Linked DNA regions of Homo sapiens. The protein of the gene in region 1 interacts with the protein of each later gene in a pairwise test. Each region holds a gene or a part of one and is shown on either strand. Other genes may lie near its edges.

What was found.
Region 2: the proteins of APCS (region 1) and ALX1 interact in binary tests that used the Homo sapiens proteins (3 or more experiments, as listed by UniProt).

What each region holds. Positions count from the first base shown.
Region 1 is NC_000001.11:159,577,032-159,592,806, reverse strand, and holds APCS (serum amyloid P-component precursor), read right to left. Parts: upstream 4,982-15,775; 5' UTR 4,886-4,981; coding exon 4,822-4,885; intron 4,707-4,821; coding exon 4,099-4,706; 3' UTR 3,942-4,098; downstream 1-3,941. UniProt on the Homo sapiens protein: Can interact with DNA and histones and may scavenge nuclear material released from damaged circulating cells. May also function as a calcium-dependent lectin.
Region 2 is NC_000012.12:85,269,574-85,286,862, forward strand, and holds the start of ALX1 (ALX homeobox protein 1), read left to right. Parts: upstream 1-10,646; 5' UTR 10,647-10,688; coding exon 10,689-10,914; intron 10,915-13,998; coding exon 13,999-14,303; intron 14,304-17,279; coding exon 17,280-17,289. UniProt on the Homo sapiens protein: Sequence-specific DNA-binding transcription factor that binds palindromic sequences within promoters and may activate or repress the transcription of a subset of genes.

The DNA.
Region 1 (15,775 bases):
AAAAAGTCTCCACATTGCATTCCAAATGTGACTATACATTGATCCTATCCAGTGCAGATAAAATATTTTTTTTAAATTTCCACTTCAACTCAAGTTTTAGCTAAGGCATATCCCAAGCTAAGGGGCCTCATTGCTTTAATCTCAGAGCTCCACCCAGAGTCTCCCACACAAAACTCACAGAAAACTACCTGCAAGCCTTCTCATCCAGGAAAATTATTTATGGACTTCTGTTAAAACCAGTCCTGAAGCTATGTGGCTAAATGCTCTTACCTGTTTTTCTGTAGTCAAAAATAAGAATCAGATCGTTACTTGTATAAGATAGAGACTCAAAAATTGCTTTTCTTATTAGAGATGACTCCTGGTTTTAGCAACTTATTGTACATCTTGTGTACTACTTGTCCCCTAGTATCTAACAGCCTTAGTGGCAAGTATGGGAAAGGGCGTGATTATCTCTGTAATTATTAAATCACTACACAACTATGTTCCTGGGTTATTGCACCTCCAAATCCTTCCATTTTCTTTATAGATTCTGAATTATTCAAGTAGTTTCCTCTGTGACTTTTGCTGATTTCTTTGTTGTGACAACAACTGTATCTGAGAAAAATGCCGAGATGACGTTACCAGAAATTCCATCTTTATTAGTCTGTTTTCATGCTGCTATAAAGACCTGCCCAAGACAGGGTAATGTATAAAAGAAAGAGATTTAATTGACTCACAGTTCCACAGTGCTGGGGAGCCTTCAGGAAACTTACAACTATGGAGAAATGGAAGCAAACATGTCCTTCTTCACATGGTGGCAGGAAGGAGGATCGTGGAGCAAGGGGGGAAAAGTCCCATATAAAGCCATCAGGTCTTGTGAGAACTCACTCACTATCATGAGAACAGCACGAGGGTAACCGCCCCCATGATTCAATCACCTCCCACTGGGTCCCTCCCACGACACATGGGGAGTATGGGAACTACAATTTAAGATGAGATTTGGGTCAGGACACAGCCAAACCATATCACCATCTCTATTATAAATTATGTTAAAATGGACTGTCTTCAGTTTTGAATGAGCCATCAATATGATAGATATTAATGATAAAAATAATATACACAGATTCACTCAAATAAAGAATTCATGAAGGAAATGATTAAGAACCATCTCTACAACTCTTCTACCTTTTGGCTAGAACAAGGTGCCCAAAGAAGACAGAATGTGGAGATAGGAAGGAACTTTTCCAAAGAACTTCTTTGCAGAGAGCTGCTGTTTTGCTGTTGTTGCTGCTTTGAGGGAGTATTAGGTTATGTTATTTGTATCTTGAGAAGATTATTATTTTTTACTTCTTTACCCAACCTCAAGCCTAATGTGGGGGCTTCTGTGGAATCACTGCGGAAGCTTGAAATATCCCTCTTGCTATTGGGAGACTCAAAGGACTTGAGAAAGCTGCAACCACTGTGTAAATAGGAAAGAGTTGTCTATATTAAGACCATCTGAGACTTCTAGAATTTATAGGGACAAGAGATGTATAAGTGCTTCTTTTGGCTGAAATACAGACAACATAGAAGAAAGAGCTTACATGCAGTCATTTTGGATTCTGTTCAAAAGAGCCATTTTAAGAGGCAGAGGGTTCACAAGAACAAGAAACCTGTCACAAACACTGTATCCTGAGATCTATGCAAGTAGTTGCAAATGATCACCAAGAATAAATAATACCTTTAACTTAGGGGAAAGTGAGAGGTGGACTATGATATCAACCTGAGATAGAAGAAAGCTTAAACATGTGAGAGATGGATTACAGTACAGCCTGATTATTGTTAGGAGAAACCCACATGTAGTTAACACAGATTTATTAGAATGTAAATTCTAAAATAGCAAGCACCATGATTGTTTTATTCAATATTATATTTTCAGTACCTGGCATTGCCTGGCGTATTTTTGAGAAGTTGCTCAATAAATAGTTGAATGAATGGATTATATCACTTGGAAGTACACTGGTTTCATTTCTAAAATTGTCTTGGGTTCCTAGGCAAAGGGGTTGTTAAACCAAAACACAGTGTTAGTGAACATGATAGAAATATCTGTTATGCAAGAATAGATAGACCTTTCTAGTACTCACAGTACAAGTTTATGGAAAGGTCGTTAATATTGAGAAAGCGTAAAGCAAGCCTTAACTCATGAGCTGTCAATCAGAAATTAATAATTTCTCATATTGCTAAAATCCCTGTCTACCTAACCAACTCAATGTTCTAAGTAAGTTCTACTTGTCTTAGTCCATTTTGTGTTGCTATAAAAGAATACCTGAGACTCAGTGATATATAAAGAAAAGAGGTTTATCTGGCTCATCGCTCTGCAGGCTGAGAAGTTAAAGATCATGCCTCTGGCTTCTGGTGAGGGCTTTTGTGTTGTGTCAAAACATGGTGGAGAAATTCAAAGGCGAAGTGAACATGTGCGAAGAGAACAAAATCTAAGGGACATCCTGGCTTTATAACAGCTACATCTGGCAAGAACTAATCTGATCCCACAAGAGTTAATGCACTCTCATAAGAGTGAGAACTCACTCATTACCGTAAGAACAGCACCAAAACATTCATGAGGGACCCACCCCCATAGCCCAAATGCCTTTCACTAGGACTCACCTTCCAACAACACCATATTGGGAATAAAATTTCAAGATGACGTGTGGTGGCGGCAAACAAACCATATCCAAACCATCATACCACCTCACCAGAAATGAGGTTGAAATGTTCTTATGAAGCCCCTGCTGCTCCATTTAAGTACTTCAGCAAATCTTCCCAGGTTCTGTCTGCTCTCCTCTGCTTCCACCCCATTGTCCCATTATGGAGTTTCCAGATTCTATCCTACTTCTTCATATCTGGTGACTGCCTCTGTTCATTCTGGCCAAATGGCCTCATGAGTTTGAAATCATGACATTGGTTACCATCCTGAAGCTTCTGGATGCTATCTTTCTGATTCCACTGACTACATGCTCTACTTATTATCAGTGAGAAAAGCCTGTCTTATTTCCCATATATGTAGCTCAAACTCCCTCTGGGATCCTTGCTTCTCTGGGAATGCAACTTATATCTGTTGACGATGTGCCAGGCACTGTGTTCCATGCTTTTCATAACCATAAAAATAACTACTAGTAATAGCATCTGACAATTATTTTTCAGTGTGATAGTTAGGATGTGGCTTGCTCTGCTAAGAGTTGTATCTGAAATGTACATGGAAAGTCCATTTCAGAGAGTATTCTGTGTATACTCTCTGTGTACATTTCAGAGAGAGTAACTGGGACCAGGTTATAGAGGGCAATGTCATATTTAGAGGTTTAAATCATGTCCTGTAAGAAGTGTGAATCCATGGAAGAATTTTAGACAGCATATTCATGTGAGCAATATTCAGAGTATAATATTTTTTGATGACATCAAGAGAACATTATGAAAATCAAGCATTGTACAGTCCTACTGAGGTTTTTGAGACATAAAGTTATGTTTGTCTTCATACAAAATGATCCCAGTCTCATACTTTTTTGGTTTTCATTCTGACTTCTTCTAGTTTTATTCTTCCTGTCTTATTACTTGCTGTCAGGTTCTCAACTATTGCTTACTTATATCATTATAGTTGTCTACCTGATGCAACCTCAGACCCCTTTTTGATCGATTTGTAGCTGGAAAAACAAATAGGAGAATTGTGATTACAATTCCACACATATTTTGAATCGTCATTAAAATGATTGTTAGTAGCTTTTAAGTATTGCCACTGTTGTGCTCATTGAGTGCTCTGGCTTTGTGATATATCTTTCTAGTTACTTACAGGTTTTCCTCCCCGTACTTGGCAATTGGAGTTTTCAGGATAATGAAACACCAATTACCAATGAAACACCAATTAGTAGATAGATAAGTAGTAGACATAAGATAAAGATATGGGACTATGACAAGCACTAAACAAATGCAGGTAGCATAATACAATATATATTTTTTTAATTAGGCAGACATACAGATAGGAAATTCAAAGAAGAAAGAGCTGCAGATGTAAGATCTAGTATCCAGTTGCTTTGACCAGATCTCTTAGACAGTCATTTCATTTTCAAGTGCTCTCGTTGAGTCAAGACCTCAGACCCACACCAAGGGTTTGATGATGACATATCCTCTGATTTCATAGTTCAGAGCCTGCCAGTCCAGGATATTGGCAGGGAGAGGGGTACCCTGATAGGCAGACAGGATATTTTCTGGGGGCAGCACAGAGTCCCACATGTACAAATCCCCAATCTCTCCCACAAAGGACTGGCTCCTATCAAACTTGCCCCCATAGGAATCCTGTTCCTGCCCCAGGACAATCTTGGGCTGAGCTTCTACAAAGTAACCCTGTCGCAGACCCTTTTTCACCAAAGGTGTCCCATTGATCCAAAATTCAGCAATACCTGATGAGGACTCCCAGCTCACACAGATGTGCACTGGAGCCGGGAACTTTTCGATAACTTTGGATGTAACTTTGTGTCTTCCAATGTATAGACTATACTCTCCAACTCTTTCTTTATAAACTAGTAGCTCATTATCCCTGCCTTGGGTATTGTAGGAGAAGAGGCTGTAGGCACGAGAGAGATCACTATAGGCTCGAAAACACAAGGTAAAGTTCTGTAGAGGCTTCTCCAGCGGTGTGATCAAGTTTACATGATCAGTAACAGATTCTCTAGGAAATACAAACACCTTCCCACTGAGGTCTGCGGGATAAAGAAAGAAAGATAATGACCTTCAGTATAAATGCAGGGAAAAGATATCTCAGCTTCAACCTATTTTCTCACTTTATGATTCTTGACCATTCCTTCACCTCCTTACCTGTGTGAGCAAAGGCTTCCAGGAGGCTGGTGAGGACAGAGATCCAAAGCAGCGGCTTGTTCATATTCCTGGCCTAGGGCTGTTATAGCAGAAGCAGTGACCAGGATGAGGGTAGCAGACAACACAGTGGCTGTCCCCCTAGCGTCTGATATTCATGCCCTTAGACTTCAGGTTATTCAGGGTTTATATGCACCTTGGGTGAGGATGGGGGAGGAAGAGCACCAATAATATGTGAGTGATTTTCCAGGTCTGCCTCCTGGCGCTTACGGTGAAGGAGTGGTGAGCCCTGAGCTGGAAAATCAATGGGAGTTATTTATTAGAGACAAGTGATGGCTAGAGCTCCAACTCCTGTGACCCAGATTTTATTGCTGGGAAGAGAGTCATTGCAGGGCAGCAGGGTTATGGATGGGATGAGGCGCTGGGCTGGCCATGTCAGCAGAGCCTCTCTCTGCTCTCTGGGCCCCCTCTCTGATGGCTCTGTGCTCTGCCAGAAGCTCCTGAGCCACACAGAGTGTATCGCTGAGCTCAGCCCTCTTGTGGGCTATGGGAACAAGGCCTTTTCTTTCTTTTATAGTTCTCAAGTTGTCTTGTATTTGTAGGATATTCTAGGATTCTGCTTTCTGCTGAAGACCCTAAAAAGTGCCTTCAACTTTGACTAATTCAACATCAAGTAATACATCCAGGCAAAGCTAAGGGGAAAGAGGGACTTGGAGAATAAACTTTCTGTCCCCATGAAGCTTAGTATTTTTCTGCTACTTCTACTCAGTGCTTTTTTTTCGTTTGCATATCATGGTGCTTCCTTATCCTAGATCTTTCCATTTCTCATTACGACTTGTTTTCTGGTTACTTCATGCTACCTGCAGAGATGTCAGCATCTCCCCAAGTTTTTCTCTCCTCTTCTTTGAGTCCTTGGTCATTGAGTGTATATCTAATCCATCTTTGGTGATGACCCCACTAATACATTTATTCACTAGCTCTCAGTTACTACACTAGGTGCTGGGGATTCAGTGGTCACTGGCTCTCTCACAGCCCCAGAGATCTCCACCTTCATTCTTTCTATGTCTCCTTCATTCTCTCTCTGTACAGTTTATTAACCACCACTCAAACCTTCTCTGCCTCTGAGATATCAAACTGAAGTTCTTCTTTCTAGCCACATTATTTCTTTCTCTCTCATCCCTGAATTATATGGTGTCTTGTTTCTCATCCTACTGTTTAGCCTCTTGTTCACTCTCTCTTCTGTTAGCTCACCACAGACCTAATCAGCCTTTTCAATGACACAATCACTGCCACCAAGAATACACTTTCTCTATCATTGTTCAAAGTATCCTTCCTATTCTCATCCCTGGGGAGTTTCCATTCTCTACTTTTTTTCTCTAAATGGAATCCCAGGTTGTGAAGCCTTATCTGGCTTGTTGCACAGTATAGGTTAGTGATAAAGTTGGGATTATGCATCTATTGACTCCTGAATTAAATACAGACCATTTGCTTGGAAGCCAATGCCATTTGCAATCTGGCTCTAACCTGGCTATTATCTCAGAATCTAATCCTATTCTCCAGTCAAACACCTCTAATTGTTGTTCTTTATACCTTCCTGGCTTTCTTGATTTCATTACTTCTATTCAGTGCCTTCATACTGTCTTGAATTTCTCTCTTATTTTCTTTTCCTGTTTCTAGGAATTCCAGCCATTCTTCCACATTAATCTCAAGCTTATTTAGGTGATGGTTATAGTAAAAGCCCAGACTTCACTATTATGTTATTGCTGTCTATGTAATAAAACTAAACTTGTATGCCTTGAATTTATACAAAAATATAAAAAATAAAAAACAATCTGCTTCATGAAGACTTTTCTAATATCCCAACTATACATTATTTCCCCTCTTTCGTACTTCCCATAAGGTTAAGATCAAAGACTTTGGGATAGAATTCCAATGTTGCCATTTACTAGTGGCTGACTATTCTGCAAGTCACTAAACCCCTCTGAACCTTAGTTTCCTTCTCTGTGAAACAAAGATAAAACTATCTACCTCACAGTGTTTCTCTAAGGATAAATGAGATACTATGATATACATAAAGTACATGGAACAGTATCTGGATGGTTATTATTACCATCATTTTAGAGCCTTTATGGCTGTTACCACTATCTGTCTCATATTATAGATATTATTGTATTTATCTTGAATCCCTTCTAGACTGAATCTGGGTATTAGGACTTATTTATATTTAGATCATTGGTTTCATCTAACAATTTTTCTTACACATGAAAAGAAACTGTTACATATTGTGGAATCAAAGGACTCAACTTTGTGTGAGGATTTTTTTTTTTTTACAAGAAACAGTTTATTAGCAACAAAAAGTAGAATACAATTGAATAATATGATAAGGTAATACTGGAAGTAGGAGCAGGAAGGTAACATTTCTTGAGAACCCAGGGACTATGCAATTCCCTAACATTTCCAGATGTTAATTAATAAGTGCCATAAAACTCAGAGAACACAGGGCTTACCAGATGCTTCTAGTTTTCTTCATAAATAAATAAATAATCATTATCTTAACAAAAAATGGTTTGCAAATTAATATCAAAGAGAGTCTTCTCTAATGGGAGATAAGCCTAGGGAACAGGTCTTGGGGATAAGTGACACAGCCTTAGACTCATGGTGGGAGAGCTTGGAGATAACGGCTTTAGATAGCTGTTGGGGCCAAGTGCAAGGGTTTGCAGTTGAATATGAAAATGTTGTGTTATACACTGTGAAAAGGAAACCCTGGTTGGAAGGTAGGGTCTACAGTATAATTGGAAAAGGGAGAAAAAGTGGAGTCTGATTCTGTTGTCTAGTTTCCTTCCCCAGAATATGCTTCTCAGGCCTTGGAAGAGAACAGCCTGCACTTCAAGAGTTGTCAAAGAGGAAACTGAGAATTATTTTTATTGTAGAAAGGAAAAGTTCTGATGTCAGGATGTAGGAAAATGAATCCTGGGTCTTCAGAACTGGGTGCAATCCTCACAGTGAGCCAATCCTCACTGTTGCTGGATCCTCCTGGGTGCCATCCTGCCAGTGAAAGTTCAGGTCAAGGTGGCGGCTCCTGTCTGGATGGCTATGGAAGAGTTGAGGCTGGGGGAAGAAAAGATACAGTATGCTGAAGAGAAACAGGTCCACCTGTGTGCCACAAACAGAGTTGTCTTGGCTACATTAATTGGCATGCAACAAAGTTTACCCTCAGAGAGCATAGTGGAAGAAGGCATCAGCAGTAGCAGAAAGAGGATCTGACTCGGAGCTTCAAAAAAGCAGAAGTATGAGATATAACTGGAGATCACCTGAGGGATTAAAGAATAACCTAAAGATGGTTTCTGAGACCTCAGGTGTTTGTAGAAGACATTAAGTCACAGTAACCAATGGGAAAGACTGGATAGGAAGAGACTGAGTAGAACAAGATTTGTGTTCAGTAAAGAATTATTTGCTGTGTGTTCTGTCAGTTGTAAGGGAATTTGAGAGCATTTAGATGGAAAGAGGCAATGGAGGCATGCATCAAGAGTAACTGATTATCACTCTGATATGTGGTTGGATAAAACCAAAGATACACAACTTAGACTGATGGCAGGGTCTTATTGTAAGTGCAAAAAAGGACAAAGATGAGAATTAAAAATATATATATAGAATATGGAACCATATTTCTTACTGCAAATCATGTGGAAAAAAAATATGGTGCTGCCAGTACAGATAGGACAATTGAGAGGATGTTCACTTGGAGGAGGTGGAGGGTAGGTGGTAAACTTGGTTCCTCAAATGCTAAATTTGAAATGATAGTATGACTTATGTGTAAGAAAGGTCTTGGAGAATTTGTAATATGTGACGGCCACTTGGAATTAGAAATACAGGTTTCAGAGAAATCAACATATAAATGATAATGAAACAAAAATGAATTTTGTCTTTCAGTGGAAAAGAGAAGAGAGGAAAGGTCAGGGAGCCAACCACTGACTTGAGGAAACATTCACATTCATGGTGTTAGAGGCAAGATAAGAATGGCAGGTGGGGAGGGAGGTGGGAGACAAAAAATTATGTTTGGCAGAGAGGATAGCGTGTGGTGTCATGGAAACCAAGTCAGTGTAAGTGTCCAGGAAGCAGTATCCAGTGGTATTAAATGCATCAGAGAGATCTAAGTTGAATGCATGCTGGATTTAGCAATAAAAACTTCAGTCGTAACCTTTGAAAGAGTAATTTTCATAAAGTGAGCATGTCAGAAGCCAAGTTTCAGGGAATGATGGAGGGAGAAAGAGGAAGGGAGTTTGTTTCCTAAGGTTCAGTAATTCTGACAAAGAACAAAAGGAGAGAAACAAGATTCTCCACAGGAGACTTGGGATTCAATGCATATTTCCCACACAGTTTATAGATTGTCTCTTCTTGACAGAGTGGCTATCATGTCTTTGTTGCCTACCTAATAACATTTCAGCCAACAACAGAGAAAAATCAGTGTCCACCTGAGATTATGACTGACCTTTCTACCAAAGTAGCTCTTTCAGACTCTAAATGCCAGGCTCAGGCTGCTGTGAACTCCTAACTCCCCTTCACAATTCTGGCAGCTTCACAAATTTGTCAGTCACTTTCCAGGTCATGCTGATACACAAGAGTCTTTTCTTGATCTCATTTCTCTGTTCCTAATTTCAGGGTTCATTTATAAAAGAAAATCTCTGCTAAGTTTTTTTTTATCTTCTACTTTTAGGTTTAGTGAGACACCTCGACCATATTACCTCACTGAAATCTCACTTTTAAGTTCAGAATTCACCTGAAACTGCTCTCTGGAATGTCACCATATCTGTATCTTAGTCTTTATCTTTCTTGACATCCCTTCACTCTTACACTTCTTTTTGAACAACCCATCTTTATAGTTTTATAAAATATAGATTTCATTGCTGAGATTAATGTTTATTCATTTTTTAAATATAAATTTTTAAATAAAATTTACCATTCAGACTCCCACTGGCCACAACCATCTTCATGCTGTTCACAATCCCTTCATAATACCTGAGTCTTCTGGGAGGAGATGTGCAAAGAAGAAAAATGTAACAGCAGGGACTCAGTGTAACTCTGTATCTTGAGTATGTTTAAAAGTTCCCTTCTCTGTGTCTAGGAATATATTTTCCAGTCCACAGTGATAGAGAATACATGCACTGAAGATGCAGAAGCAGATTCCTTGCTCGTGCAGCTACAAGAGGTCTTGGCTAGAGCTGTCTTGCGCTACTCTTGTCATCTTGTCAACTATGCCATGTTTCTGCTCATGACAGAAACATGGCAGCACAAGAGTTTTCTTATGCTGATCTATTTTATTGTTATCCCTAAAACTTCAAAATACAAAGAAAGAACCTCACAGAAGCTGACAAAGTTCACCTTGCTGGTTGTCTCCAGCTTCTGTGAATGATGTCATCCACATCTTAACTTCAGCAGGGAATGCCATCATCTTGAGTCTCACCCACATTGGTCATGTATGTTTTCCTGAGAGTGTTGGTTAGTTCAGTGACTTTATACACTCATCCTTATTCTACAATACTTTCTAGTCTCATAGCTCAGAACCAGGAGATTTTCTTGGTCTTTGTCATTTTTTTTTTAATTTCTGGGTTCTTTCTTTCTTTTTTAAAAAAATTTATTTAAGATTTAAAACAATTTTTATGAGTATGTAGTAGGTGTATATATTTATGGGCATGCACTGTGAAATAAGCATATCATAGAGAATGGGGTATTCATCCCCTCAAGCATTTATCTTTTGAATTACAAATAATGATCTTTGCCATCTTGACCACCATTGACTGCTGTGTATTTGTCTGGGAATTCCTGGAGTGCACAGTCTTTGTGAATAAGAGGGCATGTGCCCAGCTGGCGTGTGGTGCCTTTTGCATTGGCCTGATCATGACAGTGGTCTAAATAACCACAGTGTCACAGAGGTACAAAAGGAGCACATATGCTATTTAGACTGCTTCTTGTTTGACACCCTTCTTGTCATGAAACTCTCCTGCATTGACAATACTATCTATGAAATAAACAGTATTTTATTCACCACACATGTGTGCAGGTGTCCATGGGTTTGGTTTGCATTTCCTATATTGACATCCCTGTTACCTCCATCGTGCTTAGAATTTCCTAATCTGAGGTCTTTGCCACCTGTGTCCCCCAACCCCCACCTCATCATGGTCATTGTCTATATGTCTGTGCTTGTACTGCTTACCTCAAGCACAAGCCAATGAATTCAATAGAAAACAGGTCTTCTATAAGAGACCTACATTATCATCATTCATTCTGCCTCTGGACACTGTTGTTTACACTCTGAGGTACATGGAGGCCAAGGATACCATGTACAGAGCTGTGGACAGAAATATTTCTTAACAGATTGACTCATTTCATCAGGAGACCTTTAGTCCAGGGCAATGTTTTTCCTGCTCATAAACATTTTTCATCTCATAAGAAGACCAAATAGAAAGTTCTGTTGTGAATTGGTTCAAACACTTAGACTGCTTTTCTACTTCTAGAAAGAAGGCAGAATCTAGGATTTCTGCTCAGGGTGCACATTACTGCAGAGGCGAGTGGCACTCCAGGAGCATTTTGATGACTTATTTTTATGTGTGAGCGAGTTGATTGAAAATCCTCCTAGCTCCCACTTTACCTGGCCATTTGGTGCTTGACTTTTGTCTTTGAGTGGAGCAGAACTACTGATGATAATGGCAGCAGTGACTTCAGTTAAAGAATCCCAGGGACCACCTGAGACTTTCTGCAGCTCCGTGATTTCAGCTTTATGACCCTTAATTGACATTTCAAAAAGGCTTTCCTTACCATGTGCTGATTGAAAAATAAATAGTTTAGCAAAGAGAGGTCCTTCTTTCCATGAATTTGTCCCCACTGGCCACTTAAATAGTGTGTGTTTAGGTGAAGTACCCTTTACTTCTGTGGGAGGAAACAAAGACTTTTTAAAACCACATTATTGCTGCAGCCCCAGAAGCTGAGAAGAAAGAGAACAGATGGGTGGCTCTTCTCAAAGAATGGTGCCTTCATCTGGATTTCCTCTTCTTAAACATTTATCTTCTTGTTCCTTGAAGGCTTTTAGGAATTATTAATTCCACAGTGGCTGCATGGTAACTGTTGATTAGTGGTGGCTTATTTTGGGTAAGTGGATTTGGTTGTTCTTCTCTAAGCGTGGACCACAATTTTCAATCATTTAAAACTCCAAGTACTGATTTTCCCTTTTTCTGGGTGGGTGAGAGGTAGTGGGATAAGCGGCTTAAAGTTTATTTTTGTGTTTCCTAGTAGAATTTTTCTTCTGAATTGTTCTTCTCTGCTCATATCTTACACTTTTTCCTGGTGAGTAGTTACATGTGTAATTAAGAAAATTGTCATGTATATCCACTGTGAGACAGAGCTACAAGGTACTTTCCCAAAGCCCAGGTATAGTAGTATCTATTTCATACACTACTATATTTCAGGAATAAGTGACTCATTATTAGTTCAGCCCGAGGTAAACTCTTTCCATTTTCTGTCTTATACTTTTGCTATATATATTTTTGTAACCACAGAAGCAGGCCTGAGGCACATTTTTGGTCACTTGTGATCTTCTCTCCCTCCAACAGACTGCTGGAGGTCGAGGGCCCCAGGTATAGTGGGTGCCCTTTTCTCTCATTTGGTGGAACTGTGTATGTTAATAGGTGAAATCAATGCCTCAGTGATAATCAGCACATTTTGTGCCTTCGGGGTGATTCTGAAGCTGAAGTTCCTAGGTCCCTAGGGGGTTCTTGAATGAGTTTCAGTAGGTTTGTAAACTCTCTGAAATTGTGTGCAAAATATTGCAAATGTTTTTTTTCACCAGATTTTCAAAGAAGTCTCTGATCTACCAAAGGTAAGAATCTATTGTTCTGGAATAGAGTTTTGCAAAACTGTTTTGACAAAAAATTACAGTAAGAGGTTTTGTATTGCAACAGTATATGTCTACATGAATACACATATAAATATATCTTAATCAAAATTATCATAAAACAACACAAAAGCTTATGTCAAATCCTGAACTGTTTGAGAAATGATAAGGAGTGCTGTGAGATAGAGAGGTGGGACTAGAGGAGAGAATGATAGAAAATGTATTTGAAGAGGCTAGGCTCCATCAGTGGTGATAATGGTAGGGGCCACCACCATCATCATAATCATCATCATTGGCTACTCTACTCTCTTCTCTTCTACTCCATCCAAACAAGATTGATTGCTTTTTCATCTCTTCTTTCATAGAACTTTGCAAATACCTTCAATATTTTAGTTTGTATTATGGTGTTATTTCCTGTTTTAAAAACATATCTTTTTTTCAATGGAAAATGTTGTCATATTTTCACTCAAAATATAAATGCTGAGTATTGATAAGGCATTTATATTTTGTCTAAGCCAGATAAAGCCTTTACCTTTAAGAAGCTCAGGGTCTCAAGAGAGCAACTAACATGTAAAAAAAAATGCAGATATTGGGGTAGGTGCACAACTAGGTAGGTGATGGTGGTAGAGTGGTAGGTGTTACAAGCCTTTCAGTCAATTTCCAGAGACTTTAAATGATTGCTTCGATAATTCTGATGAGTTGAAAAGATGTCTGTTCAAAAGAAGGTTTTTGCTGAGCTCCTCATGTTACTATTCCCTGAGTTTTTGTGTTTTCATTTTGTGATTTCGCTAATATCCTTTTTATCATTATAATTTCTTTCAATAAATACATCTAGCCACTCTTGAAGTATCAAGTACTGGATCCAGCACTAAGGATGCAGAGATAAATCCTACTTAGTCGGTTTTGGGACGGTAATAATGTAATTACTCTCCCTCACATGGCAGCAAAATAGGAGCAGTAAAGGTTACATTACAGGGAGCTGCTTACAGTTAATGAAGGATTCTAACTATCACTGTGGAGGTGGAAAGCTGCCTACAGGTGGGCTTTGTGCAGGAGGCAACATTTGATTGGGAGCTGAAAAGATGAGTGAAAGTCTGCTTTGTGACAAGGAAAAAAGGAGCATTGCAGACAGTTGGAGAGTTCAGGAAGCCAATGTGCAAGCCAGTTGTGTTCAGGGCTGTTTAGAAAATGCAGAAATTATAGAATATTTTAAAGTATATGAACGCTTTGGATTTTATTCTTGTTGCTGTGAGCATATTTTTGAAGGGTTTTAGACAGAGGAGAGAAGTGATGAGAAGTACACATAAAATAAACGACTGTGACATGAATAAGACAAGTCAAATGCACTAAATAAGAGGCTGTATTACAACTTACAAGATTTCAATCCACCCCAAATTATCTCATACATTCTTTACTCAAGTGCTTGTTTCTAGGACATACCATGACCACTCACACCTTTGTACCCTTCACATTCCACTTTCTTTGTCAAAACCTGTAAGTGAAGGACAGGGATGGTAAATCTCAGGTTTCTGTTTTGGGCAACCAGGTGATCAATGGGTGGTAAGAAACAGCCTCTCTGAAAAAGTGAAACTTAAGTTGAAATGTTTGTTAATAAAAATAGCAAGACATTTTAGATGATTTAAGAAGCAGAAGTTTCCTCAGGAGATAACCACCATGACTCTCTCAAAGGTGGAGCCTCATGGCAGAAGCTTAAGGAGATCTGGTAGTATGGGAAGAGGAAGAAAGGAAGAAGAGCAGTGCTTTCAAAGTACATGGCTTTTTTTTTTTTTGTAATGAGCAGTTTTCATAGGTTTGTCCTACATTTCCATATGTTTCAGTTGAATATATCTTTAAATTAAAACAAAGATTTCAAAGAAGCAATAGGATTCAGAACTCCAAAAAAATCAATGTTATCTTAACACATTTATTGATCACCCACTTTGTGCAAAAAGTCTCTGTTTTAGGCTTTTTTTTTTTTTTTTTTTTTTTTGAGACGGAGTCTTGCTCTGTCACCCAGGCTGGAGTGCAGTGGTGCGATCTTGGCTCACTGCAAGCTCCGCCTCCCGGGTTCACGCCATTCTCTTGTCTCAGCCTCCCGAGTAGCTGGGACTACAGGCGCCCACCACCACGCCCGGCTAATTTTTTGTATTTTCAGTAGAGACGGGGTTTCACTGTGTTAGCCAGGATGGTCTCAATCTCCTGACCTGATGATCCACCCGCCTCAGCCTCCCAAAGTGCTGGGATTACAGGCGTGAGCCACCGTGCCCAGCCTGTTTAAGGCATCTTTGAGTTTTGCTTTGCAAAAAGTAAAGAAAGAAGCAAGATTTAAAAAGTTGAGAACAGACAACACCCATATTAGGTAAGGGTAATACTTGCTGTGGTAACAGATTTACTACAAAATCTTATGGCTTAATATTAATTCTTAATATTAAGAATTAAGAAATAATATTTAATAATTAAGAAATAATACTTAAATAATTAAATATTAATTCTGGCTCATGTAAAATATAACTACACGCTCCTGATTGGCAAGAAGTTCTCCTCTAATTCTCAACTCAAGGACACTATATCATATGGCTCTGCTTTTCTTAGGGCTTCTAAGAAAAGAAGTCCTGTGATAGATGTTCTACCTCCAGGTGACAACGGGAGAAGTACAGTGAAAAAGCCTCACCTGCTTCTTTACCATGATGGTCTGGAAGTGGTACATGCCACTTCCGCATGCATTCCTTGGCAAGAACTTCTGCCATAGAATCCTATCGTTTTTAGAGTACAACTAAGTGAGTTTTCTGTACTGAGTTTTAAGTAGGTCCATAATGATTTTATTCTTAAAATTAATGTTTAGAGAAATTTTATTAAACACATCTACCATATGAAGTAAAATTTTCTTCCTTAGTTTTATTTTTTAAAACTTCTATGGTTGTTACTGTCTCATTTGGAGGCACTTCTGGAAGCTAAAAATCATCTTGTTCCTAAATGTTTCTGCTGGTCATATGGGCAGATTAGTGTTTTTGTCAGGAGGAGGAACAGTTGTTCTTAGAAATGAGTGAGGTAGAGAGGGAGAGACAGAGCTTT
Region 2 (17,289 bases), on another chromosome or scaffold:
GTATAGACATTGGTAGAACCATTTGTAAATACTTTCCTCACAAGAATATTGATATAGACAGTGATTTCCTGAACAAGCTAATCTACTCAAGGGATTGAGTTCCTTGAGGCCTTCAGGAGCACTATGATGAGTCCTCTAAGTCTAGTATTGGCTGGAAAAAGCTAGAATTTCTAAGATTATTTATCTGGAATACATTAGAATCAAAGAATTGGAATGCCTTTCTATCTTAGACAGCTCAGGCTCCTGTTACAGAATACCATAGACTTGATGGCTTAAATAACAAATATTTATTTTTCACAGTTCTGGAGGCTGGAATTCTGAGATCAGGGTGTCAGTATTCGTGGGTTCTTGATTAGGGCCTTCCTCTTGGTTAAAGAAAGCCGTCTTCTTACTATATCTTCACATATCTGGGAGAAAGATCTTGTATCTCTTCATCCCCTTTCAAGGTGATTAATCCCATCATGAGGACCCCACCTTCATGACCTAATCTAACGTTATTACCTCCTAAAGGCCCCATCTCCAAGTACCATCACATGGAGGATTAGAGTTTCACCATAATGAATTTTGGAGGATCATGTCCACTCATAGCAGCATCTTAGAGACCATATAGTTTAATCAATAAGAATTATATTTCTAATAAACTTTTAAAAATACATAGTCTTACAATTGGAATATTTTAACAGGAGAAGCTGAGATTTTAAAAGGTAACTGTACTTGTTTTAGGTTATACAGATTGTTAATGACAGAGTTAGGAGTAGGATCCCCATCTCCTGAGTCACAAAAATCATGGAAAATTTATGTTAGAGGCAATACCTATGTTTATAGCCTACCTGAATAGTACTTTGGGGTAAACACACTTACCTTAATGCAGTACACACACCCCAGGACCTAGCAACTTCACAGAAATTTATTTCTCGTATGTGATCCATTTTCTTTCTTTCCATCTTCTAACAATCATAATTATATACTTCATATTCTTAATGTAAATAGTTGAATCTGTTTCTGCTTTTTAAGTCACTTTTCATTGCACAGCACCATTTGTTAATTATTTTTTCTATGTCCATAATCCTTAGTAAATGATCTCACAATCTGAATTTTAAAATATATAACAACAACAAACACATAGTGCTTATTTTATGACCAGGCACTGTTCTAAATGCTTTAGATACATTAACTTTCTTTATATTTACTCCTACCCTTGGAGATAAATAGCCTTCATTTGATAGAAGATAACATTGAATCAGAATCTCAGCATCCCACAGCCAGCGAGTGGTAGAGCTGGACGTAACCCCAGTGAGTCTGAAAGTAGTCTCTACATTATTACATTTTTGGTGTTATAGATGAAATAGATATGCATAAATACAAATTATGATACAAGTGTGTAACCAGTTAGCCAAACTTGCTTATCTGTATAATGAAAACATAGGCTAGAATGATACAATAGTTATTTGACGGAAGACACTCGTGTTCTAAGTTTAGTCTTTAATTTCAGCTTAAGGCAAAATATAAGAAGTTATTTTCTTCCTCTTAGAGAAAATTAATCCTAATTTAAGAAATAGTAGTACTATAACATATTTGTGAACAAACTTCAGATATGTAAACTATTGTGAGCATTAAAGATGTCATTTGGAAGCTTTGATTTGAAAGAGACTTGCATGACAGGTTTAACCCTGTAACACACGTTGTTCAGTGCAACTGAATGTGAAATTTTGAGAATCAGCCACTTTAGTTATAGGGAATTTTCAATGTTAGAAAGTTAGTCTTTTACATGAAAAAAAAAATTCTAACTCAAGTCAATCCACTTAGTTCCACCACTGGGGCAAAACTGAACAAATTTAATCACTCTTTCTTATGTCTTAGCTAAAATTCACTAAGTCTTTCTTACAACCATGCTTTAATATGATGTGGTTTACAAATCCTTTTTGCCTCAGCCACAGTACACAAAATAGCTTCATATTATTATTCTTTCTCTATAAAAATAGTTTCCAGAGCTCTTCTTAATTCTCTAGATTTCTTCGTATTTCAGTGTATTTTGAAGATCTGGTCTTCCTTGATGTGTGACTGCTTCATTTCTGTTAATGTAATATAAGCTAATTTTTTAAGCTTCCTTAGCAACTAAGTCATGCTGTAGACTCAAAAATATCCTCAGAGCTTTATTGTTTGAACCCCATAAGCTTTGTTTTTCTTCTCTATATTTTTTAACTTTAATTTGCAATTTTGGGTTTGCATCCATTAATTTAATCCTATCATGCTACCTTTGCCCAAAATATCTGCATCCCAATTGTTGTGGTATTCTAAAGATTTAGATGGCCAACCTAGGAATGCATAATTTGTAAAACACAGTAAGTACAAAATATATATATTTAAGTTTTTGGTGAAAATATTGGATAAAGGTACACCTTTAATGGATGATACCTGAAGAAATTTTTTAAAGTGATTTACAGGATTCCATGGTGTTCACCTCTAGAACTAAATAGTTGCATGACGTACCATAGAGACACTTTTATATCCTATATGGTTTGCCTCAACTGTGATCCAGTAGTTAGAGATGCCCAAAGAAGCTAATATACCTTAAATGAAACAGTACATATAGATCTACTTTATTTCATAAAAGCAAAAATTAGTAAAGTTTCTTTAGTTTATTTGCCAATATTTATGTTTCTTTTTAAGTTTTAAGCTAAATATTCAAAGTTTTATTAACCTAAAAAAGAATGCAAGATTAAAGGGCATTTCTACTCAAAACAGAGTAATTGGTTATTTAGATTTTGCTTAATTCAACTCAATTCAATTATTAAGCAATTCCTAATGTGGCAAAAGAGTGGCTGTGTACCTCTCCCCAAAAATAGCATATATGAATCAAATACAGTGTAAAATAAAAAATTTCAAGAATATTAATCAGAAATGAACCCAAAACAAGTCCTTTTTAAATACTTAGTTTATAGTAATTTTAATATTGCAAAAAGTGTTTGAAACCTCACAAAGAAATGGAAATAAATGTATTCTTTAAAGCCTTTTTTTTTTCTTTTGGTAACTTAAAAATACTTGTTTAGTGGAATGGCAGGAAACATTTTAATTGCTTATTATATTTGAACTGTATTAATAAATTGTGCGTTCATGAAGTTTTGTGAACTGAGAGAGCAAGTGTGAAGGTAAGAAAGTGTTTAATTTTTTTAGGATTTTATAACGAGGGTCCATTTGGGGGCATCTGATGTTGGAAACTGAAAGATGATGTAATCCCATGAGGTCTCTGAGGCTTTTCAACAGAGGTCTTCGGATGCCCAGGGCGCCACCCTGCTAGAGGTAATGCATCAACTTTGTTTAATAAAAAGGACATAAAATATCCAGTAAAGGTTAAGAATTTTTTACTGTGTGGAACAAGATCTTAAGAAGAGACATTACCGTGGCCTGGCATTGAAAATATTGGCAGTCAGGCTGAAACCTGGCTTTTTTTTTTTTTTTTTAAATCGGGGGAGTGGATCATTACTTGTTGAGGACAGGTAGTTAAAAGTGAGGTATGAGCTACTTTCGGGCGCTCCCCCCACCCCCAATTTGTCCCCCCAAGTTTGTGTGTGTGTGCAGGCGTGCTCTTTTTACTGTCAGAGAGTTACATGTCTCTTGACTAAAGTCGAAATCTGCCGCATTTTGTGATATGGATTAATTCTGATTGCCAACATGTGAAACAAAAAGGGCACTGTCCTTACCAAGGGACGGCTAGATGATCCATCTGCCAACATCAATATTTGGAGGGAAAGCTTAAAATATGCTGTTTTTCCAAGGGTTAAACTTTAAAGGGGTGAAAACACAACTGATGAAATGTTAGCATCAAATCGGTTAACCACTAACTCCTTTCCATATTCGTCGTCGAGGCTCTTTTAAGTTTCCATGAGAAGCGAAACTTCATTCTCTTTGCTCAGAATAGAGACTCCTCCACCTATGCGCGTTTAACCACAGAGTTGTTCTTGATTGTAAGGGACTTCGCCCACTTGGTTGAAGTGGAGAGCCGGTCCTCATTCCAGACGTCCCGCACGGCAGTCGCTCATGGCTCCCTCCAGGCCGGGAGCCAGGAAGGTGGTCCTTCACCGAGGTGCGCACCAAGCGGCGGTCCACCCAGGCAATGGGGTGCACCAATTTGCCTCCAAAAATTTGCTGCGCACACAACCTGTTCACAGTTCCTGATCAGAAAGGGCTAACGAGATGTCTGTCTACAGCTGTCTCTGGGCGAGGGCGCAGGCTTTGGGAAGTGGTTCAGCGCGATCGGGGACACCGCTTGCAGCCCTTGGTCCTGCACCCCTAGGAGGGGTGTCCCACAAGCTCGGCTTCCCTTTTGCGAGCCACAGAGAGCTTTTTGTTCCGAAACTCTCATTACGACAGATAGTATTTAAAACTCATCAAAATTCGCTTCAGAAATCTGTGTTGCTCGGGATAGGCAAGACAGGTTGGGAGGAAAAAAGGAGTGAATATTAATCTTTACCTTTCTCTAAAGTTCTTTGATGATTTTCGAAATAAAGGGGCTGGCGCTCTCTCCTCCCTCTTTTTTTCTCTCTGAATAATCCTTGATGTAATAAATGTGTTTGTGTTTTTCCTCTTTCTGTTGAACTTATAAAACACCATGACAGAGGATAAGCTAGATTTCGAGACGTTTTCATGGCCACAATGAGATGCATTCTAAGCTCAACACCTTGGGGTCCAAACCCTAGCCTCTTGTCCTGATATAAAAGGTATCAATGGGCACGGAAGGGGCACAGTAGGTGGAGAACTTACGGGAGGCCAATCTACTTCACTCCTTCGACTCTCTTTGATTTTGTATATTGGCTATACTCTGGTCGGGTTTGATTAATGACCACGGACTTCACATTTACGTTGCATAATTCCAGTCCAAAGGAGAAATATCCATGATTTTGTCTCAGTTATCTTTACTGAGATTTTTCTTTAAGGAAGTCTTTCCCTGAAATGGGAAAGCTCAAGGAGTGAATACGCACGCACATCTTTTTGAAAATAAGCAGCCCTGTCTTTCAGACATACCTAGTAACTCAGCAGGAAAAAAATGTATTTAAATATATCGAGTAGAAGTTTAACAATTCACTTATCAAACAAAATAGTGGAAAAACGTTTTAGAGACATGATTAATAGTTTAATAGTGAAATACCAGTCTATGAATTGAATACAGTTTAACTTACTTATGCACTTCTATATGTGTCATAGAGGAAGTCTAGCGTTAACGGTCTTTATTATGTTCAGAACTTCCTGGAAAAATGACGACAGCCATAGAAAGAAATAAAGGTGACTAGATTATTGCAGATAAATTATTTTTAAAGTTTGGAATAAAATACATTTTATAGTAAAAGCAAACAATGTCTATTGTAATGTGCACACATATGCTAGATAAATCAAGATATTTGCACCAAGGTCAAGGAGTCATACTGTATTTTTACATTTAAATTGGATCCTTTAGGAGAACAGAAGTTTATTTCTCTCTCTTTTAAGAAAACACAACTGTGTGAAAAACTATTATTGAAACACATTGGTATTCAGAAACAAGTATCACTTTTTGAAAAAACAGAAGTTTATGAAACACCAAAACATTTAATAATATTATTACAATAAGTGTAAAAATTTAATTCATCATACTGGACAGCTTTGCAGCAGCATACTTTAAAGACTTACAACATTGATTAACATCTGTGTAATTTTTTTTAAAGGCAGAAACTTCAAAAATCTCACAAAGTTACACTTTTGTCTGTAGGTGTGTTTTCTGGAGTAGATGATGGTGGATTGGGCATATATTTTAAAGAAAAGCCTAAATATTTCTTTGTGTGTCCAAATATTTTTATTTTGATGAAAACCTCTTGAGCTGCTTTGATGCAAAATATATTTCAGTATCTGTTATGTCTGCAGAGCTGTGGGAAGGCTGAAGATGAAGGCAGGGAGGGAAAACAGCAGCAGAGCACACAAAAACACGAGGCCACCTGGCATCTTGCCATGCTACATGACATTCAATTATTTTAGTACTTTTTCATGAAAGTTTCTCTCCACCAGCTCCTCCCCTCTTCAGACCATTGCTCTTCTACATTTGGCATAGTTCGCCTGATTCAGCACACATTTTTTTCCTTGCTCTACTTACAATAAGCCTCAAACTCTCACTGCAAAAAGGAAGTGCTAAGACTAAAATCCTAGCAATCCTATCTTGACATTCCCACTATTAGTATGTAAGTGTGACATTTCTCTCAATAAGTCGAAATCAGAAGAAACTAGAGTGGTCTATACATTTATTCTACCACTGCTTTAATGCTGCATATGTAAATATTTTTTTCATTTCCCAAAACATATTTTCAAAGGGATGACTGGCTTTAAAAGCAGCTTTTAGTCTGTGAGGTTTTTTTTTTCTTTTTTAGTAAAATGAGTCAAGATGCCTTAACCTGCGAATCCTTTATCTGAATTTTACTTTCTAATAAAGCACTACTTTGGGGGTGGGGGAGGGTCAAATACTCATTTCAATGGACTTTCTAATAATTTTAACTTCTTTGATTATTTTAATTCTAGGCTCTAAATGGGAACTAAAAAAAAAATACTTTAAAAATATCCCAAATCACTGTTTGGGAGAGCTGCCACCTAACAACAACAACAAACTGGTCGCAGGAATAATATTAGATGTCACTTCAAATGGTAGCATCAGTCATCTTTATCTTCACAAAATAGCTTCCCCCTCTCTGTTAGGATCCCATGGTGCCAGAGGAATGATCAAGTTTGCTCCAACACATCTCAATTACTAGAGGAGAAAGTTTTTCAGAGAGGCTGAGACTTGAATCTGTAATAGCCTTGTTAACCCTCATTATTCCTCCTGATCCCCGCCCTACACCTCACCCACAGGCACTGCTCCTCATCCCCATCAAGAAGATGTGAAGAAGCATCAATACGCAGTGAAGATCCAAAAGTGCTGAAATCCTAGGATGTCCTAAATTCTGTTAGGTTTTAAAAGAAATCAATGACTCCCCACCTCTGTTGCTCTCCTACCTCCTCTCTCACCCCACCACTTCCTGCAAGTGTTAGTGCCCATCGAGAAAGTTCAGATCTGAAGGAAGTAAATCAGAAAAGGATGCACAGCAGCTTATTCTAGTTAGATATCTTGACTGACATAAAAGAAGGAAAGCTGAATCCTGGGTTTATATCCTGAATATGGAAAAAGATGAACAATACTCTCAAAGGCAAAATAAGTGGGTAAAGAAGAAAACTGATGCCTGGGGTTGATGGGCTGAGGCCCCAGGAGATAAAACCCCAACTAGAACCTGACCTAATAAACTGGATCATATATATATACATATATATATACATATATATATGTATATATATATGTATATGTATGTGTGTGTATATATATATATGTATATGGCGAGCTGATTACCCCTCAGAACACACTTGCCCCTGAGGCCTGGGCCAAGCTGACTTGCTGGAATTGAGGAGGACTTTTAAAAGCTGTGGTGGTAGGAGCCAAGCTGGATCTGGACGGCTGAAAGCATTTATCAAAGTACTGTGGCCAATTTCCAAGAAGGCTATCCTAAAAGCATTGGTGGAAAAAGCCCAGGTAGATCTCAGGGAAAGTGAGACCATCTCCAATGTAATTTCTTCTCCCTTCTTGTGACTTTTAGAAATTATTGAATTATTATTGTTTTGATTAGTATTATTTTCAATGTATTATTAATGCCCCTATCTCTAGAGCTGTGTCATAACCATAAACTCCATCTCAACCTCTCAAAATTCATGTAATGCAGCTGTTGGCAACCAAATACCCAGCTTCTTGCCAAAAACTGCAGATTAAACATTCGTTATGGGAGTTTGCCATTAGCTGTTTCCTCTGTTATGGGCACATGTGGTTACATGTCACAAAACACACGGGATTCTGTGTAGTATATTTGAGTTTCCAGGGAGCTCCAGGGATATTATGTTGGTTTGGTGACACCTTACACCCCACCCCTTCAACCATTACCATCAAAAGTGAGTTTTGGTAATGGGGCAGAAACGGGTTTACTAGACAGCTCTTGTCCTTGGCTACGCTGTACTTTTCTCTATGAGTTGGACCTTTATTGGCATACAAGTATCCTAGAACTTGTATCACATGTCTTTCATTTAAAAGACACGTAATGTTTTTCCGGAAATTTAGGGCTTTTAAGACATATATTTATAAACAAGCTGACAGAGCTCTACAAGATAACTTGGTTGATAACTAGTTTGTATATTTCCTCAAGTCAGCAATAGGTGTTGTTGTTGCTGCTGTGAATTTTTGTAAAACATATTAAACGACCATTTTCTTATCTTTCCCGTGTTTAGTAGAGAAAGTCAGACTTTCAGGATACCTGAAAATAAGAAGGTACCGAAGGGGATAGGAAAGAATCGAAAATGGCTAACCCAACAGGAGTGAGTGAATAACGCAACACTCAACGTTTCCACAAGGCTGCCCGGGGGCCCGCTGGAAAGTGTCCAAAGAACGCAGAGCTGAGGCTACTGCTCACGCAAGGTCGGGATGCTACAGGACACTTTAAGAAGAGCGTTTCAATGGCTTCTTCCGACACCTCACTCTCTCCCCCTGGGCCTGACCTCAGAATGCCAGGTTGTCTGGTTTGGAGTTCCTGCGGCCCGACGCAGCCTGGCTTCCTGCTGAAGCTCAGTCCCTAGTGCTTTTCTTTGACCTTGCTCCCCTGAAATTTAACAATCTGCAGTTGGTTCTTGCAGCACTGCTCTGGAGAGAGTAATAATAATACAGCAGAAGCTAGTTAGTCCCAGGAATAGTGTCCACTTGCCTGAATCTGAGTGCGCGCTCAAGGCCACACTGAGCGCTGCGCCATGTGAACTAAGCTTGTGCGCCTCCTTGGGAGAACAGTCTGGGTTGGACTTTGGCCGGGCGAGCAAGGCTGCTGCTGCCAGCTGATCTGCTCGGGATCCGCCGGTCGGATCTGGGTGCTTAAGGCCGACCCTGCCTTTCGCGCAACGCTAAGGAGCAGCTCCGGGGTGCACAGCCCTCCCTGATTGTTACTCTCTGGCTGAGGCCTGGTCAGGTCTCGAAGAAGGTCTCACCAAAGAGGCGTGGGTCAGCTAAGACCCCCGCAGAAGGTGGAAACTCTCAAACCCATCAGCATGCCCACCACAGCTGGGCTTGGCCTCACCATCCTCAGAGTCCGGGCTGCTCGGCCTGCCCGAGGCCTCACCATAATTGCCAGACTTGTCTGGGGAAACGCGACGGCCGCTGTGAGTGCCAGTGTTGACAAAGGCTGTGTCAGGACGTCTAAGCAGAGGCCTACCTGGACCAAAACCTGTCTGGCTTATTTTCACCAAATTTGCTAGCTTAGGGTGCCTGACGCAAATGCGATTTTGTGCCCAGGGCACCGAACGCATTTCCCCCAAGCGCCGCGGGCTCCTAGGAAGCCAAGAGTCGTGCCAAAAGTCACACAGAAGGGCTTTCAACCTAGCAGTGCTGTCCTGCCTGCCCTACCATCCCCTCTGGTGGAAATGGAGGCCTTGGACCTGTCCGCGCCCAGGACGCCGCGCCGCGAGTGCCCGCAGCTCCGCGCGCTCACCACTCACTCCCAGAGCGCTTTTCGGAGTAACTCCACAGCAACTCTTTAAAATTAAAAGTAATTTCTGTAAAAATATGCAGACATTCCTCTTCTTCATAAACCCCTATTTGTAACAATCCTCACTTTGGCATTAGAGTAAAAGCCTTTCAAAGGCACTGATCCTAACGGGTTTTCTTAAAATAATTTGGGTCTAATGATAAAATCGTGGACCAAAGGGAAGGGTGGCGAAGAGGGTGTAGGGAATTGGTTGGCATTAGTATAATGGCTTCATTGCCTCTTGCTCGGCTTCTCTCTCCCACCCATCGCCACCGCGTCCACACTCCGCCGCATTCCAGAGAAAAAGAAAAGGCCACGGCCTCGTAAAGCTCCCAGCTGGCCCGGACCCCGAGCTCCTCCCGGTTAGAAGCCGAAGCGGCCCCTCTACTACGGCGGCTGCGATTAACAGTTGCCAATGCATCTGGTTCCTTGGGCTTCGGATTAATGTGAATCTTCCACGTAAACGATTTACGGATGAAATAAAAGCCTTTTAGAGCAATATTTCCTTTCAAGTTCTTAAGACGCCTCTAAATCTTTCTGGTAGTGAGTGGCCGGCATGGGGGCGGGGTGGGGACGGGTGGCTCAGGAAGGCGCAGGCAGTAGGGAGTGGAGGTTTAACTGCTTTGCGATCTCACCAAGATCTTCCGAAATGCCAGTCCACTGTCACGGCGGCAATGAATCTGGGTGTCAGGGGCTCGTCTCTCCTGGCATTTGTCTGAAATGGAGCTGTCTGTCTGTCTATCCTAGGCCTGGACGCCCTCTGCCCGGGTAAGTGGGGAAAATGGGGGTGGGGTAGGGGCGGAGGGGGACCTGGGGTGGAGTTAGTCGCCCGCCTATTTTCATATTCATTAGAACTGGGAGGCTGCCCGAGGAGGCCAGCTGAGTTTCAAGATATAAAAGCAACTTCGGGTGCTCCTTTTCCAGCCGGGACGTATTAAAGGGACCGGAGCGGGGCAGTTCCCGACGCCGCAGCGCTCGCTTTCCCTTCCCTCCTCTCTGGCCCTCCCTCCTCCCACCCACTGGCTCCCTCCCCCAGCGCTCTCCAGTTTCTGTGCCCCAGGAGCTACGCGACAGTCTTCCAGGATTATGGAGTTTCTGAGCGAGAAGTTTGCCCTCAAGAGCCCTCCGAGTAAAAACAGTGACTTTTACATGGGCGCAGGAGGTCCTCTGGAGCACGTTATGGAGACGCTGGACAATGAGTCCTTTTACAGCAAAGCGTCTGCAGGCAAATGCGTGCAGGCCTTCGGACCCCTGCCCCGCGCCGAGCATCACGTGCGCTTGGAGAGGACCTCGCCCTGTCAGGACAGCAGCGGTGAGTCGCTAGCGCCCCAGCCGGAGCCGCCGCAGCCCTTCCGCAATCGAAAATGCAGGATCGGTCTGATCAGGCAGGGAGGGAGAAAGGAGAAAAGTGGGAGCGAGGGACCTGGAAGGTGGAGGAAGGTAGTGGAAGGTGCTCGCTTTATGAAGCGGTGTTACTGCTGCTGCAGCCTTTGGGGGCGGAGGGCGGAGGGAGGGAGAGATCCAGCACCGGGTTGCCTCTGAGCGATTCTCCTTTCGCTGTAGGGTCTGGTCGCCTACGGATCCCTGAGTCCTTCTGTAATATTGGTTCCTGGAGTAAACTGATAGGGCGCTAAATAGAGCGTAATTGAGTCAAGACAGAACGCTTCCTCTGCGAGCCCGCCTTGCAGTCCGGGCGGTAGGAACTGAAATCGATCACAGCTCGTTAGAGTACGTCACTGTCGTCACGAGTAGGGAAAAAAAAACCGGAAAACAAAAACAAAAAACAAAAAACCCTTTGAGCTCCTTTAGGTAAAGATAAATCTTTTTAATTTTCCAAGACGTGGCGATATATTTTCAAAGTTTGAGGATCCCTAGATTTCTAGCGTGTGTGAATTTGTAATTTCTGCTTTTTTTTGCGTTTGCAATACAACACGCGTTGAATGTTTGTTAAACACTAAAGCACACTAAATAGCTTCGGGCAAACCATCCCCGGCCTAATCACTCATTCCCAGATTCTACGTTTTGTATTTTTATGACTTCACATTAAAAGTCACCTAAGGAGTCTTTGGAATGCTTCTGGGTGAAATCTTCAACTTTGAATGCCCAAGTATCTCCAAGTCAAAATGTTATCAAAACAAACCATCTATCTTTTCTATCTTGTAACCTAATACTAACCTATTATTTCAGATCGCGACAGCTAAAGCACGTTTACAATTCCAAGAGAACTTCTCCTTATCATTGTATATATTCCACAGTTAAGCTATAAGGGGCGGGTTGCTTTAAAATAACAAACGAATTAAGTGTGAAATATTTACAACAAGCCCCCTGCCCCCTATTTTATAGAAATTCAAAATCTGACAAAACACTGGCCTGTAGAAGCTCATTTTCTAAATATTTTGAACACAAGTTTTTTTCTTTTATTAATCTCATATTTAACTAATTTTATTTAACGTTGCAAGTAACTTTTGACTAAGGGTAAATCAAAAATAAAGGTGCAAATGATAGAGAAAATAATCAGCTAAGTCGTTTCAGTCATTTATTTAGAAAGATTCGAGCGTATACTTTTTGTTATTCTTACACTGAGTTGTTGGTTTTCTGGCTGCGTTTCAGACCTGGTATCTGTATTTGTGGAATTCTTAGGTGCATGCCTAACGTTATTTGAATTGACAGGTCTTTCTTTAATGATTCTGCAATGTCTTGTATTGACTCTGGATGGACTTGATCATAATATTTTATTTTGAATAGTCGAGAATCCAAAATAAGAGACATAATTGATGCGTTATCAACTTTTAAACAAATATCACACTATTAAGATGAATTATAACAAAGAAGTGTTAAGGAAGATGAACATAGGCAGTCATCCGCTTAATTTAGGAGAGATCCTGTCTTTCTCTTGAGATGCCCTTAGCCTCTCTGATGCTTCCCCTCCCCCATCCCTAATTGCTGCAGTTCCCCCTTTAATTTTGCCCAAGGAGATAGAACCGTTTGTTAATCAGTCATGGCTCTTCTTTATATTTGGTTTAACATCACATCTTCGTTTGCATGAAAACCGTTAATTTAAAAAATTTGTTATATATATATATAGACAAATTATAGTTGTATATATTTATGGGGTACAAAGTAATGTTAAGTTTTTTTAATGCAATGTGGAATGATTAAATTACGTTAATTGGCCATCACCTCAAATATTTGACATTTTTTATTATGAGAACATTTTTGAGAGTTACTCCGTTAGTGACATTGAAATGCACAGTACTCAATTATTAGCTATTGAAGTTATATGCGCATTAAACTTGAATATATTTGTATAATGATGAAAAGAGTTGTAAAAATACATTATGGGGGTAATTTTAAAAAAAGAAACAAATGAAAAAAGTATGATCATCTATTGGAAATTATTATTCTGGCTGGTTTGACTTTACTTTTTAAAAAGTGCTTCCCATTTCACTATGTGCATCCATTGCATTTGTGGGTGTTTGGCATTATATGATATATCTTTGTTTTATATCACACTGCAAGCATGCAATCAAATCTGAAGAAAATTACTGAAATTAAACATCCCTTAACAGAATGCCAGATGTCATGCTCTGTAATGTTTTAATAGCTGTTTTAATTTCTGTGTTTCAGCAGAGAAAATAGAAAAGTTTTCAATCCCAAAACTTATCTAACTAGCTAAGCAGAAATATGAAATGTTTTAAAAAGAACTGCGTAAGTTTTTAGGTAAAAAAAAAAAATGCTGCTTAAATCTAATTTCCGATAGAAAGCGTATTCAAAATTTGGCATGAAATTTATTTTGTCAATTTAGTAGATTATTTTTGAAGAAAAAGTGTAAATGCAGACATGGATATAAAGTTGAAATATTCAAAATTTAGTGGAAATAATGTCACATCTGAAATCTATCATCAGTACGTTTTACGTGGAGGAGGATAATAACTTTCAGATATTAGTACAGAGGTATTATTTAAGATTAAAATATATTTTCTGAGCCACATTAGTAGCTTGGTTTTATCTGCTGTGAATAAAACACATGACATTAAATTTGCTTCAGTTTTCAAAAATCATGGACACTTAAAGTTTCTTTCATGAAACACCCAGATCATCTTTTAATTCGAGTACATGAATTTAAGTAAAAAACATGTGCATAAACTTATAAATCCTGTAAAATAGAACTGCGGATTTTGGCAGATCATAGCAGTTGCATGAACACATTTTAAAATGGTATTTAAACCTGTCCTACAATGAATTAAGTATAGAAATGTGGTAATTGAATTAATACTAGCACAATAAATTATTAATAGGCCAATTTCTTGATACTCTCAATTACTTCTACTTATTGATTTAATTGAGATGAGTTTCACAATCCTGAGAACTGTTGTTTTTCCTCCTCTGGGTACAGTGAACTATGGGATCACTAAAGTAGAAGGACAGCCCCTTCACACCGAACTGAATAGAGCTATGGACAACTGTAACAGTCTCCGAATGTCTCCCGTGAAAGGGATGCAAGAGAAGGGAGAGCTGGATGAACTTGGGGATAAATGTGATAGCAATGTATCCAGCAGTAAGAAACGGAGGCACCGAACCACCTTCACCAGTTTGCAGCTAGAGGAGCTGGAGAAAGTCTTTCAGAAAACTCATTACCCGGATGTGTATGTCAGAGAACAGCTTGCTCTGAGGACAGAGCTCACTGAGGCCAGGGTCCAGGTAGGAGCCAAAAAGAGGCCTTGATGGATGGGATAGGAAAATAAATGGTGTTAGAATAATTGAATAAGTGCATTTTGCCACAAAGAAACAAACTGATTCCCTAGCTGAAGATGAGAAACGGAGTAATATATATGAATATATGTCTACTAAAATTATTTTTTAATTGCAAAAATTTTGACAACTCACGCAATATGTAAAACAAAAGAACACAAGTTATTACAGAGACATAAAAATTAACAATCATTCAAACATAACAATATGATAATATATCTCTGATTTTCAAAAGCAGTTTTTAAAGGATGAAAAGCAGAATCATGACTATTTAGTAATTGGTATATTTATTTGTTTTTTTTTTTTCGGTTTTATTAGCCACTAAGGTTCTTTTTTAGATTATATATCAGGTATTTGTAAATTATTTGTATAATAGCCCATACATCTAGAAATTTCTAGATTTGGAGGCATAATAAAAAAAAAAACAATCCCACAAATTCCCAATTGTTATGTATACCATGGAATGTTTTCACTATGGATAATTAAAAACAAGATCAAATAGTGCTCATTTACAATTTTATAGTCCTAGTAGTTGTCAACATGTAAATATTCCATTATAATGGTTAAAGTCTAGATAAATCATATGAATTTTGCATAGGCAATAAAAATAATGGCTTTAAAGTAAATTTTTGTGTATACTCAATTATGTTTATAAGATATATTCTAGTTATTAAATTGGATGATCCAATATGCTTAATTTTTAAAAATAATTTGAGAAAGAAAAATCATACCAGGTAAAATTTTACCTCTTAGGAGTACTTTATTTTGACTACATTTGATATTCTTAAACTATATTTTACTAGTTTCCAAGTAGTAAGAGTTTAAAATGCAACAATAATTCAGGATAATGGCCTTGGTCTTTGTGTGTGTTCTGACTCCTCTACAAAAGTATTGATTTTTGCAATTCCCATAAACTGCTAAAATGGGGGAATGAATAAAATAGTGAAAATTTTTGTTCTAAATCGAGTAACGGTATTTCTTCTTAAAATTGTAAGGCTCTTACATCATTAGAGACAACATCTGGTGGCACACGGATAACAAGCAGCAGATTTTTACTTGAGTTTGTGGAAGCAAATGGTTACTTTATCTTGGTTCAGGAAGTAAATATGTAGAAAGTTCATGCTAACAAAGAATTTTAGAATTGTCGAGTATTAACACCCGCTGTGTAAGTTTGAGATTTTTGTCTTTGTCTATATTTAAATTAGTTATACTTGTAACCATAAACAAATATGTTTGCACACAGAGTGACCAACTGTACATAATGCATCTTTTCCCCTTAACATTCACCAAGTCTTGATTAATTTTTGTCTGAGAACATGCACAGAGAGCCAACTTGAACTTAATTTACTCAGGTCGTTCTCTTTCCTGCTTTGCACATAAGAGTGGTAACTATTACTCATTTTAAGGAAATTGTCAAGTTCTTTTTGTCAATGGAAAAAAAAATAAAACCCAAAAACGTATTACTAAATTCCCTTAGTGTGTTCCTGGGGCTCATCTGCGGAGACAGCAAGAAAATTTGATTTGTTTTTTGTTGTTGTTGATGTCTTGAGCCTTGGCATAATGGATAATATGCATTTATCAGCAGTGTACTAAAACTATAATGAACATGTAGCTCTCTGGCTCATTTCAATTGCTGAAAACTCTGCAAAGTGCCATCTTAAATTTGTAATGTGTACTAAAAAATTAAACTGAGTATTAATATGTTGCCATAATGGTGAAGGTAAAGATATACAAGATTAGAATTGAGTATGAAAAAGAGTGAAAATTTCAAGTAAACTTCAACAAAAGGCTTTTACAACTTGCATTTTTTATATTTGATTTCTAGCCTTTTTCCTAAATATTTTATATTCTGAACATAATTGTGTGAAGAAGACTAGATTCCCAAAAGCTACTCCTATAATGTTCATTTAAAAACATCCAAGTATATATATTGAATATAATCTTCTGCATCTCCCTTTAATATTAAAGTGAAGATATTGGAATATTACAGGTATGAATTAATGAATATCCAACCTGCTGAGGAAGATGGTTCTTATAATAAATACTTCTAATAGGTAATTAGAGAAATTGTGGAAGATAGCTTAGTGACCTTAGCTGCCACAGTAACTGATAGACTTTCTTGACACTTGGTTCTATCTGCCCTATTTCTTATATTATTTCCATTACCTGTGCTTTAAATTAGAGAAATTACGTAAAGATATCCGAGCATTTTCATAAGGGAAAATAAGTTGCATAATGTATGTAATAAGCACATTCACGTATTTTAAAACCATAGTTCAACTTTAGATGATTCCTTTTTACCTATAATTCTTGTCATGCTTATTATAATATGTAATCTCATTTTTTCCTATTTCTAGATAATCATGATGTTCCTGCTGCTGCCATATATTTAGGTGTAATCTTTATGTTTAAAATTTTAAAAGATTATGTAGGTATGAGCACAACTGAGAAGAGCTTTCACTTTTGTGATATATTTTAAAGATAAGTTTTAATAGACTCAGATATTAATTTGCTTATAGATTGACTGAGTTTACGTTACGGCATATACATCTTCCAGACTTGCAGCATTCTCTTAAAGGAGACTTATCCATGACAATGTGGAGATATATGGAGTATTCAGGATCATATAATCTAATTGCTTTTTGTTTTCCATAAATGAGAAAACAGAGGCTCAGACGTATCAGATGTATTTCCCGAAAGTCTCCTGCCTCTTTCTATTAAATTATTTTGTCTCATGGGAAAATCACTTACCACATCAAGATACAAGAAAAAGTAAAATCTGTGGATCCTTTTCTAACATAAATACATTTCTTTTTACGTAATTTTTTTAACCTGGTTTACCTTTCTTGTTTGATGTCTTTTAACATCACATTTGCTTTATCAAATATTCCTTAGCTAAAATTCTAATTTTTATTAAATAATTAGGTTTGGTTTC